Linked DNA regions of Homo sapiens: region 2 is linked to region 1. Evidence: fine-mapped QTL for protein levels in blood plasma. A gene starts in region 1. The other region holds a variant in brackets. All regions are shown on one strand. Distances are between the middles of the regions. Region 1 holds the start of VSIR (V-set immunoregulatory receptor). Region 2 overlaps PSAP (prosaposin).

What was found. A credible set is the group of variants that fine-mapping cannot tell apart. PIP is the chance, under the fine-mapping model, that this variant and not a neighbour inherited with it causes the effect. Protein levels are from antibody-based Olink assays in UK Biobank. Linkage for the fine-mapping came from a reference panel and not from the study's own genotypes, which makes the PIPs less certain.
Region 2: its variant is the best candidate, but not a certain one, in a credible set for the plasma level of the VSIR protein (UK Biobank, PIP 0.71).

What each region holds. Positions count from the first base shown.
Region 1 is chr10:71,769,135-71,777,134 of GRCh38, forward strand. VSIR (V-set immunoregulatory receptor) reads right to left here and starts at 4,386. Exons shown (of 7, transcript NM_022153.2): 1 at 4,224-4,386. The coding sequence starts at 4,305. The region is part of intron 38 of CDH23 (cadherin related 23); the gene reads left to right. RefSeq lists silencers at 4,186-4,265, 4,286-4,615.
Region 2 is chr10:71,820,033-71,823,719 of GRCh38, forward strand. PSAP (prosaposin) reads right to left here. Exons shown (of 14, transcript NM_002778.4): 8 at 1,844-1,975; 9 at 208-303. Among named protein-coding and RNA genes, the nearest start is that of PSAP, 29 kb to the right of the region's middle. The variant C/A (reference allele first, on the strand shown) is at 1,812.

The sequences.
Region 1 (8,000 bases):
CATATATAGAAGAGGTTATTCCCTTTACAATTATTTCAGTCCTGATTACATCAAAGAGAAAGTCTCAGTTTGATGCTAATATGTCTCTAAAACATTTGCTAATCTCCTTTTCTTTTTAAATTTTATTTTATTTTAATTTTTTGCAAGGGAAAGCAGCAGTTTTCAGACTCCGAGCCTTCCCAGGCTAAAGTTTCCAACTAGAATTCAATACCCTTATATGGTTTTCCTGTTACGTTCTTTTATGGTTTTGTTCTATTTATGACAAGTGATACTGGCTTTCCACTAATGACAGCGATAAAAAGTTTCCTTTTAAAGATCTACATACTCAAATAAAAGAATGAGTAGATTTAAAGAAAAAAATAAGTAAATATTATGAAAGGCAGACACTGCAGAGATCACAAAGGTGATAAGCAAATGACTGAAGCTAGGGAAACACCATCATGGAATTAACCTTCAGAGGAGGGTGGTCAGCCTCACTGAGACCACGTCACCCAACCTGTCCATTGCACAGACAAAGGGGAAGTGTGTGTTTGTGTTCCCATGATGAGTGAACAGCAGAGGCAGGGTTTGACCCCAGGTCCCCATGGGAAATAAGATCCTACGCAGAAAGGCTAAAGGAATGGGCTTGCTTGGCTTGGTAAGTAGCAGAGCAACCTCATTATTGGATTACTGATGAGAAAGATGGTGGCCACTGTCTTTGTCTTTGGTGATGGCCAGCCAAAGTGAATGGACCGAATGTAAAAAGATCAGATGTAAGAAAGATCCACCAAGATAAGCAAACCCAGGGCCAGGCTTGCCTTCAAGTTGCAATGTCCCCATCTCCTGACAACTTTAAGAAGAGAACCTGTAGGCACCTCCATGGGCATTTCAGACTGTGAGGGCCTACAGGGGCTCACAGGTAGCTGGACGCAGCCCATGCACCCTTCATACTCCAGGCTTTGGAGAATCTAGTCCCAGTGAAGCTCACCAATGCCTTCCCAGGCCCTGGGCACTCCATTAGGCCCTGTAGAGAGCAAGCAGCTTAGATAGAAAGCCAATGGCATGTGGCCTGCAGAAGCCAAGAAATACCATAATATTACACAGTATTCACGAGGAGCCGGGTGCTGTGTTAAGTGTTCGTTCATTGGCTCTTCACAGTTGCCCTCCAAGGGAGGTGGTATCATCTTCCCACTTTAGAGGGAGGGGAACTTGCTCAGGGAGACTGAATAACTTGTCCAATATCACAGAGCAGTAAATGGCCATCTTGGGATTTAAGCCTAGGTCTGAGTGACTCACAAAGCCCAAGAGTTAAGCAAGGGGCTGTACGGAAGCCCTGGCATGCATGTCCCTGGCTTTGCCATATACAGGCATGCTGGGACTGCAGCTAAGGGCATCTGTGGGGCCACTGGAAGCCACAGTGCTGATCCCTGGCCCACCCTCCCCTGGGAGACCAGACTGACCCTGGGTCATTGGTTGGCTAAAGCCTGGGGCCTCAAGTTTGGTATGTGGGGCTCGCTCACTGCCAACGGGTTCTCCTTGAGGATCCCTTTCTTCCTTTCATCTGCTCAGGCCTAACACCCCATACACTGTGTGCGGATAGGGAGGTGACCCCTTTAGCGTCTCAGCAGCACACTCCTGCCTGGACCACCCTCTCCCAGGAAGGTCAGACCCCAGCGGAACCTTTGCCCTGCTTGGGTGGAAGCATGAACAACTAGTACAGCTCAGCAAGGGACTCCCAGTATTGCTGGCCCTTGGGTGTCCCTGGCATTGGGTAGATGACCCCTCATGCCAGGGACTGGCCTCAAGGCTGTTCCTCTCTACTCCAGAGCCTCTGGGCAGTGGGTTGTGGATTTCCTAAGAGCTGACCATTGCTGCGTCAGAGGCTTGCAGCACTGGGTTACTCAACAAGGCCCTGCAGCCTGGTTTGCTATGAAGGAGAAGATGGGGTCTCTCGTCCCTAGCCCCAGTGCACTTAAATGTGCTAGTCCCAGAGGTTGGGAGTCCTGAGTCAGCCTGTGAGGACAGGGCAAGGACAGTAACTGCCTCGGGTCCTGGGAATGTCTGTGGGGAAGAAGAGGCTCTGCTACCCTTGAGATCTGCTGGGTCCTGGTCCCTAAGTGTACCTCTCCACCCATCTCACCCTGAGTCAGGCCCAGGAAAGGGGTATCTTTGGTGTTTCCTGGGCTTCTGAACACCACATTCATCACTACCATTCTCCTCAGTGCTGGCCCAACCCCAAGAGCTGGAGAACAGGCTGGCCCCGGCCACTCTATCTCACTTTCCCTGGCATAAAGGCTTTGACCTTGGGCAACATACCCAGGGCAACCCAGCACCTCGGCAGGCTGGTGATCAATCTTCTCAACTTACAGATCCTGCTGACCATGCCTGCAACCAGGCCTCCCATCTGCTATCTCCCTCAGTGCACACTGTCCTAGGGAGTTGGGTGAATATCTATTATAGTGTGTCCATGTCACAGTTCAGAATCCTGAGGTCCCAGAGCAATTCAAATGCTTCTGGCTCCTTTCAGTGGAAAGCTGCAGCCAGCCTAAATCATCTCCCTGTGCTGGGCCCAGGAAGAGATGACCCTTTAGTATACCATGTTGTTTGAGTAGCCAAGACCTCTGGGAGTAAAGGCCCCTGGCCATATAAGCAATATAGGGGAAGGCGTCCTGAGCTCCTCTTGGGGCCTCTCTGCTACTGGGTGCTCTGCAAGCTGGGTCCCTGTGCCCTGGATCTCTAGAAATGTTTCTCAAATTGGGGCTGCTGAACAGAGGGCAGCCCAGCCAAGTGAGGGCAGGAAGTGGGCAAGAAAGCAGGAAGGGTCTCACAGGGCCACCAGGGAGGGCAGTGCAGGGCAGGTGGCCCATGACAGGTGGGATGCTGGCTTGCCTGCCTGCCACCATCCTCTGTTCCTTCTGGAAGCCATGCCCTGCCATGAGCCATGGCCTTGGTGCTGAGACTGTCCATTCCACCTCCCATTCTCCTCCTCCCTCTGACTGTCACCTTGAGAAGCATCCACCCTGGGGCTTAGGGCAGCTGTGTCTGTGACATGTGGAGCCCTCCTCCTCCTCAGAGGCCCAGGCCAGCCTCCAAGTGCTGAGATAGCCAGCTGCCTGTGGGCACCCAGGTTGCTAAGGTATCTTCCAGGTTCAGCCTCCTCCTCTCCCTCTTATCCTATCACCCTCTCCTTCTATTCCATCCTGCCCACTGGGTCCCTGTGCCAAGCCCTCCACCTCCCTCCTGCCTCCCTCCGAGTCCCTGCATGACTCATACTTTCCCTGGGCCCTCCCTATAAAGTTTGGTTCCACAGGCTCTTTGAAGAGATCCAGCCTCTTCAGCTCTGGGCAGGCAAGAACTAGGCAACCAGGCCATGGGTACCAGGGCCTCTGCCCCCAGCCCGGGAGCCCCTGTGTTGGGGCCAGGATACTATCTGAACATGCTGACAGTCTGGACTTTGGAAGGGGAAAATGGTGCTTCCCTGTGTGGGCTTCTGTGTTTGAGCTGAGGAAACTGAGGCCAGAGAGATGCCGTAATTTATCCAGGGACCCAGAAGGGGCTCATAGCTGAGCTGAAGAGTGTCCCACATCCTCCCCAGTACTCCACACTGGTCCCTGAGTGGCAGCCTTGCTAGGATGGCAGGAATCAGCTGACCACTTATTCCTGGGCCATCAGACCCTTAGAATAGGGACCAGGTGGGCAGTGCTGCCTCTGTGTCTGAAAGTGGACCCACCGTGACCAGTGCCCAGTGCCCACCAAGGCTCAGCCAGGGGTTTCACCAGGGCATGGGGCACTGGCTGAGCATACCACGCCCTCTGTGTCCTCTGCAACACTAGAGCCCTGAGACTAGAGGGGCAGAAAGATGCCAGCTGTCAAAAGCCAGTGATATCCACCAGAACACACTGACCGCCCCCACCCTGTGCCTCTCCTTCTTTGCAGAAGCTACCTGTGCCCTGGGTTCTCTGGGCAGGGAAGGGCTGGACAGGCAGCCCTCAGGGGACAGCCCTGCCTGCCACTTGGGCAGCTGTCAGAGCATGCAGATGTGCCCGATGCCTAGCTGGGGCACTTGGCACAGTTGCCACTGCACCCTGCCTAGGGGTCCCAGCAGCCTCTGGGCGGTGGGTGGAGTGGGGTGCACGGTCACACAGGCTGAGAGGGCCCCCAGGACGCCCCCATCCCACAGTTCCCACTCCAGTCTGCTGTCTTCTCCCAGCTTTTTCCCAGCGCCCCGCCTCCCCCGACCTTACCTAGGGACGCAGCCAGGAAGAGAGCGAAGAGCAGGGATCCCCAGCGCCAGCTGCCGGCCTCCAGGGCCGTGGGGACGCCCATGTCGCCGTCGGACGCGCAGAGGAACTTCTGGTGCCGGGGAGCGGGCGGGACGCGGCCGGCGCGGGGAAGCCTCCCGCGACTGAGTGCGAGCGAGTGAGCGCTGCGGGCGGCCCCAGCGCCGTGCTCCAGGCACCCGCCCCCTTCGCGCAGCGCCCCCGGGGGGCCGTGTGGGGGAACTGCCTCTCCGAGGGCCGCGTGGGAGGGGCTTCCCGGAGGCCGGCCCCGTGGGTGGGGAGCCAGCGTGCGTCCCAGCGAGTCAGCTCCACTTGATCGGCAGTTTAAAGCCCGTTCTACCGTCCCCCAGTCCTTTTGGAGAGAAATTATTATTGCTGCGCAGCCTAAGAAGTAGATCTACCTCTAACAGCGTGATAGACGTTACCATGGCTTGCATCTGCCCTCAGCCACCAGCCTTTGAGTGATCTGGGGACAGAGACTTGTACCCTACATCCTCCAGCCAGACCAGGGCTTGGTATGTGGTAGGCACTCCCAGCTGTGGAATGAGTGAGTAAATGAGTGAATGAATGAAATCTGACATTGTGAAGAGCTAGGCAAGCTGGAGCCAGTTTAACTGTAGATTCAGAGCCTGAGGCACCCTGAGTGCATGCGCGCGCGCACACACACACACACACACACACACACACACACACACAGAACAGGTGCAGGACTACACGCCAAGATCAGCACATCCCTACCCCGGGACACACACAGATATGCAGGCAACACCTGTTGGCGTGCCCCACAGCACATCCTGCAAGCTCCCCTCCGGCAGAGGCCTCAGCTGTCCGCCTGGCTGTGCACCCGCCCTCCCTCCCTGGTGCCTGGATATCTGCAGGACACTCTGATGCACCCTAACTTCTAGTGCCTCTGCTCTTGCACCCACACCCAGCACTGCTGGCACCACTGGAATGTCTCTCCCCTCCTAATTCTTCTCATCCCTCAGGGCTCAGCTCAAGTCCTCCCACTTCACGAAATGTCCTGACCCTTCCTTTTTCCCGGCAAATCCTTACTGTCCACACCCCCTTCAGCTACCACCTCCAGCCTGAGATAACCAGCAGTTGGTTCTTCTTCCGGCTGTTCTGCCCTCCAGAGCGAAACTACAAACCTCTCTCTGATGTTTCTGAGACCCTAGCACAAAGCTGGGCGTGGAGAAGGTTTTACTGCACTTTTATCTGAATGGACAAACCAATGAGTGAGTGAGTGATTGTGTGATGGAGGAGCAGAGGTGATCGTGGCCAGGACCAGGGATCACAGGAGTGGAAGAGCACAGCCATTTTACTCAGTTTACCCCAGTCTAGCTGAAGCTTCCAGGGGTTTTTCTGGCACTTTAGGGATCTTGGGTTAATAGGTGACTCCTAGGCTGAGAGGCAGAGGACACTCAGAGTCTGACTGGGTCAGGAACCAGGGTATCAGGACTCAATGGGAGCCAGGAGTCCTGGGGGCCTTGTGGGTGGCCTGATCCAAGTCACGGGCTCTCTGGAGGCCCTTAGCCCTTGCTCTAAGGGCAGGGAAGGCTACAACAGAGGAAGGCTGAGGCATCATGTTATTACTAAGTGAACTTGTGCAGGCCCAGTCCCCCTGGAGCCAGTGAACTCCCCAGGATGGGAGCCCCAGAGGCTGGCAGGACATAACCCAGGTCCTTGGGCATGCTCCTGGCCTTGTGACCCCACCTTGGAAGGCAGCCCAGGGCCCTTCCTGCTGGCATAGCATGAGCTCCCTTCCACCAGGGGAGGTACAAAGCCAACTGAGATCAGGTGGACACCGGGCCCTTCTCACCCTGACATCCTCTGGCAAGTGAGGGGGGTCCCTTAAGGGCAAGATCCTAGAGCACCACCCCATCTCAACCCTTCCTGGACTGGCTTTGCTCAGGACACCCTTGAAACCAGACTCCCTCTTCCCCAGGGCCTAGCAGCCGGGGAGGGCCTGGAATTAGAGAAAGGGGAGCAATTGCCCTGCCAACCCCTTCCCCAGGGGGATAGAGCCTCTGAGCTGGGCCCAGTTCCCTCCCCCCTTTTCACTTCCTTTCTCCCTACCACACTGCCCACCACTGAGCCTCCTGGGGTTGCATCAGGGTGAGACACAGGCATTGCCCAAGGACCATGGTCCAGAAACCTCAAGCACTGTTTCCTCAACACCAGGGCAGGACAGGAAGGGCTCAGCTGAGAGGGCCTTTGGAGCACTGACTTTCTCCTCCCTCCGAGACCAGAGGAAGTCAAACCCACCTTCCCTCCCCAAGCCCAGACCTGGTCTCAGAGCAGGAGGGGCTCCAAGGCCCAACTCTGTTCAAACTCTCCACTCCCAGCCCCTGCAGCCTGCACACTCCATCATGTGTTTGTGCTTGTTTTCATTAAAAATAGTGGTGAAGGCCCCAAATATTCGAATAAAGATGACTGTCAAGGAAAGCCACCATGTCCATCTTGTGGCTCTGCAGGGCCTGGAGGCAGCTGTGAGTACTCTCTACTGGTGAGGGGCCCAGCCTTGAGCCTTCCTGAGTCCCCTTACTTGCCGGCAAGAATACAAGAGCACCACATTGCAGGAAAGGGGCTGAATTCCAGCCTCCCTGTTGGGGAGGGGATGCTGACATTTCCCACATTCCCAAACTCACCTCCCAAACTCCCTGAGCTAGAAACAACTTTAGAAATCAAGCCAGGTCCTTTATTAAACAGACAGAAAAGGTCCAGAGAGGGGATGTGACCTGCCCAAGGCCACGCAGCTCCTTTTCAAGGCTGCCAACCCTATCTGCTTTGGAAACCGTTTCAGCAAACACCCAATGCCCTCCACCCCCAAGATCCAGAGCTGCATATCAGAGGAATCATTGCCTCCTCAGGGGCAGTGACAGCCTTCTTGGGTCCAGATCCCCTGCCCATCTGTCCATTCTTCCAGTGGTAGCTCCAGAGCCAGCCAGTCCCAAGGAAAAAACCATATGCAAATTGCCTACATTGAGTTGTCTGTACCACCTGCTTTCTGTTCTCTGGCCTGGCAATGGCCTAGTCACGTTCTCTCTACCCAGACACCTTTGCAGTGATTAACACCTTATTATTTTATATTAGTCACTCATTATGATTTGTATTAGTTAGGGTCCTGGCAGGAAACAGATGGCACACTCAGAAAGGGTTCAACTGAAGAGAGTTTAATACAGGGACTGTTTAGGAAGGCTGGTAAAGCACCCAGAGACTAGCACCAACCACAGGAAGCCACTACCACTCACATGTCCAAAGGGAAAGAAGAGGAAGTGATGTTCTGGAGCCCAGTGAAAGCTGGTGCTATGAAAGGGGGACCCCTGTCCCCAAGCAGGAGAAACACAGCCATGGGCAGAACCGCAGTGAGGAATGGAGGGAGTGTGGAAGAAACACCCCCGCCTCTTTCTCCCCACTGCTTTCATCTTCAGCCAGGGCCTCCCATTGGCCACACCCAGCAGGAAGCTGGATAGCAAGGGAGCCAGGGTAAGGCAGTTAGTCCACAGGGGACATCTTCCCAGGTGGAGAAAGGCAGGAAGCAGGAGCAAGAACCATTTCTAGTTGATTCTTGAGTGCTGATTGCCGAGTTCTGATTAGCTGAATATTACTTGTGGTCCAATTGACTCAAGCATTGGCAGAGATGGCCGATCACAGGAGAGTATGTTGTAGAAGCTGTTCTTGGAATGAAGTTATGTTCTGTGAGTCTTATTTTTCACAGGTCAACAAGTTCTGCCCACGAAA
Region 2 (3,687 bases), 49 kb after region 1:
CTACAAAGCAGGGCAATGGTGTCCACCTCCCCGGACCCCCGCCAGCCTAGAGGTCCCACTGGTGAGGATTGCCTTCCACGAGATGGGGACATGGCTGTACACATGTCAAGGCTGGGCCAAGCCCTCTCTCCTGTGGGACTTTCCCACTGGGACATTCAGGCTCGGGGGGGCAGGAGAGGCCCTCCCTCTGCCAGGAGGACAGCATACCTCAGTCTTGTTGTTGTCAATCAGCTTGGTCACCTCCTTCACCAGGAATTCACACACCTCACAGTAAACATCAGACTTTGCTGGGACCTCGTGCTTCTGTGGAAAGAGTAGAAGGAGAGTACTTTCAATGCTGGGACTCACAGCCCTTGGTCTTGCTCCCCTAAAGGAAAGGGGACACAGAGACCAGGGTGGGTTAGCACATCAAGGGCCACTGCCTCCTGAATTCCAAATGGCGTGTGGCTTCTAATATCCAAGTTAATTCCCTATTTTTACATTCACCCCCTTCCCCAATCCTCTACCACCCCCACCTCCCCCTAACCCCACCAAAACAAAACCCAGGAATTCACAGTTCAGGAGACAGAAAGTCCCTTCCCCACCCCGAAGAGCTGTCCTGATGATGTGTTCGGTTACAATCATTTCATCATTCAGGGTTCATTTTGGGGAGGAGGATGAAGGACCAAAAGCAAAGTGAGGGGCTCACTATCGGTCCACTATCTAGAAGACAGAATGTTGAACACACTTCAGGTCTGCTCGTGTGTCTCCCATGTCTCATTAGCACTTGAGAATGCTCTTCTGGAACCCACCTTTAATAAGGCAATACTGTTACAGAGGATGTTCTGTGGCAATGGAAATGTTCTCTATCTCTGCTGTCCACTATAAGCTCCAGCTACCTGTGCACTGAGCACCTGCAATGTGGCTGGTGTAGCCAAGGGGCTGAATTTTTAATTTTGCTCCATGGTATTTCATTAAAATTTAAGTAGTCACATGTGGTTGGAGTGCGAGCTATAACTCTTCACTTTCTCTGGCCGTCACTTTGGTCAGCAGGCTGGAGCTGAGGAGCACCCGGTGGAGAGGAAGGCAAGAAGCAGTGCTTCCTGGATTCCAGCTGACACTTCGGCCTGGCCCCTGGGTCACACACTCTGCACATGCAGAGAGGAGACAGCAGAGAGAGACCAACAGCTGGCAGTCAAGTGCCGTGGGATGTTCTAGAACAAGAAGCGTGTACATGTGCCACGTGTTAAGGCATCACACAGCCCAGGCCTTGAAGAACTAGAATGTAAGCCCCACGGGCACAATGACATCATCTGTTCACCACAGCCCCTAACATGCTGCCTGACCCATAATAAATGCCAAATACAAATTTATTATGGGATGAAGTAGTCTAATCTTCACCAAGTGAGGTGTTTTAGTTAAATAAAATAGACACCCACATGTACTTAGTATACAGGCTGCAGGCCCAGTGAGGCTTCCGTACACTCTGAGGGGTGTGCTGGGAACATCCAGTCTGTCAGGGCCACAGGATGGGGAAGGACCCAGACAGTGCATGTGAGAAGGTGAGGCTGAAGCCAGGCACTGCAAAGTCACCTTTGAATGGCATGCTGAAAATACACAGGCTAATGATCCCACGAACATTAGGGTTTACAACCAAGGAAATAAAATGTTTTCAAAAGAACTCAGGGTCGGGGGCTGCATTAGTATAGGGGATAGGATAAACCAGTGATCACAAACTCAAAGACCTTTAGGAGCCAGGCAGGGAACCGAAAGAAACAAGTGACTCGTAAGATGTGATGTGACACAGCAGGGAGTAGTGTGGCATTGCACAG[C/A]CCTGACCAGGACACAAAGTGACACCAGGTACCTTAATGGGCTCCACCAGTTCCAGGGCAGGGATGACATTCTTGGAGGCCACTTTGGCGGGGACCAGAGTCTGCATGGGCATCTCTTTCACCTCATCACAGAACCCAACCAGCGCACAGATCTCCTTGGGTTGCTGAAGAGAGCACAGAACAACCAGTCAGCAGCAAGCCTACGCCCACTGCTCCTCAGTCCCAATCCAGCCAGAGGACAGGGAGCTGGACAGCACCCTGGGCCCAGGTCAAGGCTACCTCCCTCTCCCCCTCCCACAACGGGGCAGATTCCAGTTTCCATGTTAAAGGGCTCGTGTCTGAAGCAGTGCATATGTGCCAGTTACATCTCGGGGAGGAGACCACACAAAGCTCCTAAGGAACATCAAACAGAGTCTCCATCCAGGGCCACCACGAGGGAGACTCCCCAGCACCTTCCACATCTCCAAGGACACCTGGTCTGTTCTAGAATGTGTCTTTTCAGGTCACTCTAGGTAGGAACTAAGCTATGCTTTTTTCTAGAGGGGGAACTACCATGCCCATAAACTAACAGAAAGCCAAATGTGTTAGAAATAAAACCACACCAGATTTTTCAGCGGCAGGACCATTTAAAATGATGCATTAAGGGGAAATGCTGGCTTTTTAAAAAACCACATTCTATGTTCAAGCTGCACACAGTGCACATGAAAACCCAACCCGCCAAATGGATGAATCATTTTAAGCCACAAGGTCTCCAGATTGATCCCCTTTCACCATTTAGACACCAAACACAGAGCACTAGATAGTCTAGACATCCTGACCATGACACTCTGATGGCCAAGAGTGAGACAAGTGTATAGACTCTGTATATTGTGGAAATAAATGCAACCAGCAACTAGCTCTGAGCCTGAGTGCATTTGCCTTCCAGCACCAAACCCTAAAGCAGCAGGAACAAAAGTGCTAAAAACAGGACCTGTTAAGGGAAAAGAGCTAGACCATGACTATGGCTCATCTTGTTTTAATATCAAGAAGGTTCGAGAATTAATAAGACCGGGGGAGTCTGAAAAGTATATCCCAAATACCCTGTCTCTGCCACACCTTAAGAATGAAAAATAAATAAATAAATAAATAAATAATAAGAACGCAGCTGAAGATACAGCAAGCTTTTTAGAAAAAAAAAAAAGACGCCAATATTCAGGAGGTATAGGGCTGCTTCTGCCTCGATCAGCTTTGTTCCAACTCCTTGAGGAGGCCTAGGTAAAAATTCAGGTATTTCAACCAAAGTCCTCTCCCATTAGACTTCAAAATACCTTCAAAAAAAGCTCCAATGCTAATCCTAGCAGATGGATGCCAACGCTCAGAGGTGGCAGTGTTCAGGACGGCCCCGAAGGACACTGGCTCAGAGCAAGTATGGACTGGGCATTTGGTTCTTGTAGCATGCCATCTGATGTGGCTCTAGATCCCAAAGGACCCTGTTACCCAGAGGGGCAGAAGCCACAATCAAGAGATTGTTTCCAATTCTCTGGATCCAACAGCCAGGAACAGTCTGCTGGCTGTCTGCAAATGTTTGCTCATGCAGCAGAAGCATTTCTGTGTTTATGAAAAACAGCACTAAAGACATGCAATGCCTACTTGCGTTGTGACAGACACAAGGTGCCCTGGGGAAGCCAGACCTACACTGGACTTCCTAACTGGCCTACGTTGAAGGAGGCTGAGGCACCTCCTGGGCCACCCATGGTTCCCCATTGTCACACTGGTGGCCTGCATGTACGTATGCTGTATGTGGACTGTGACCAGAGCACAAGGCTCTGCTGGCTTCATTTTACTGGACCCCGAAGGGGAGATGAGACCCCCAAAACCTCAAGGGCTGAATTACAGG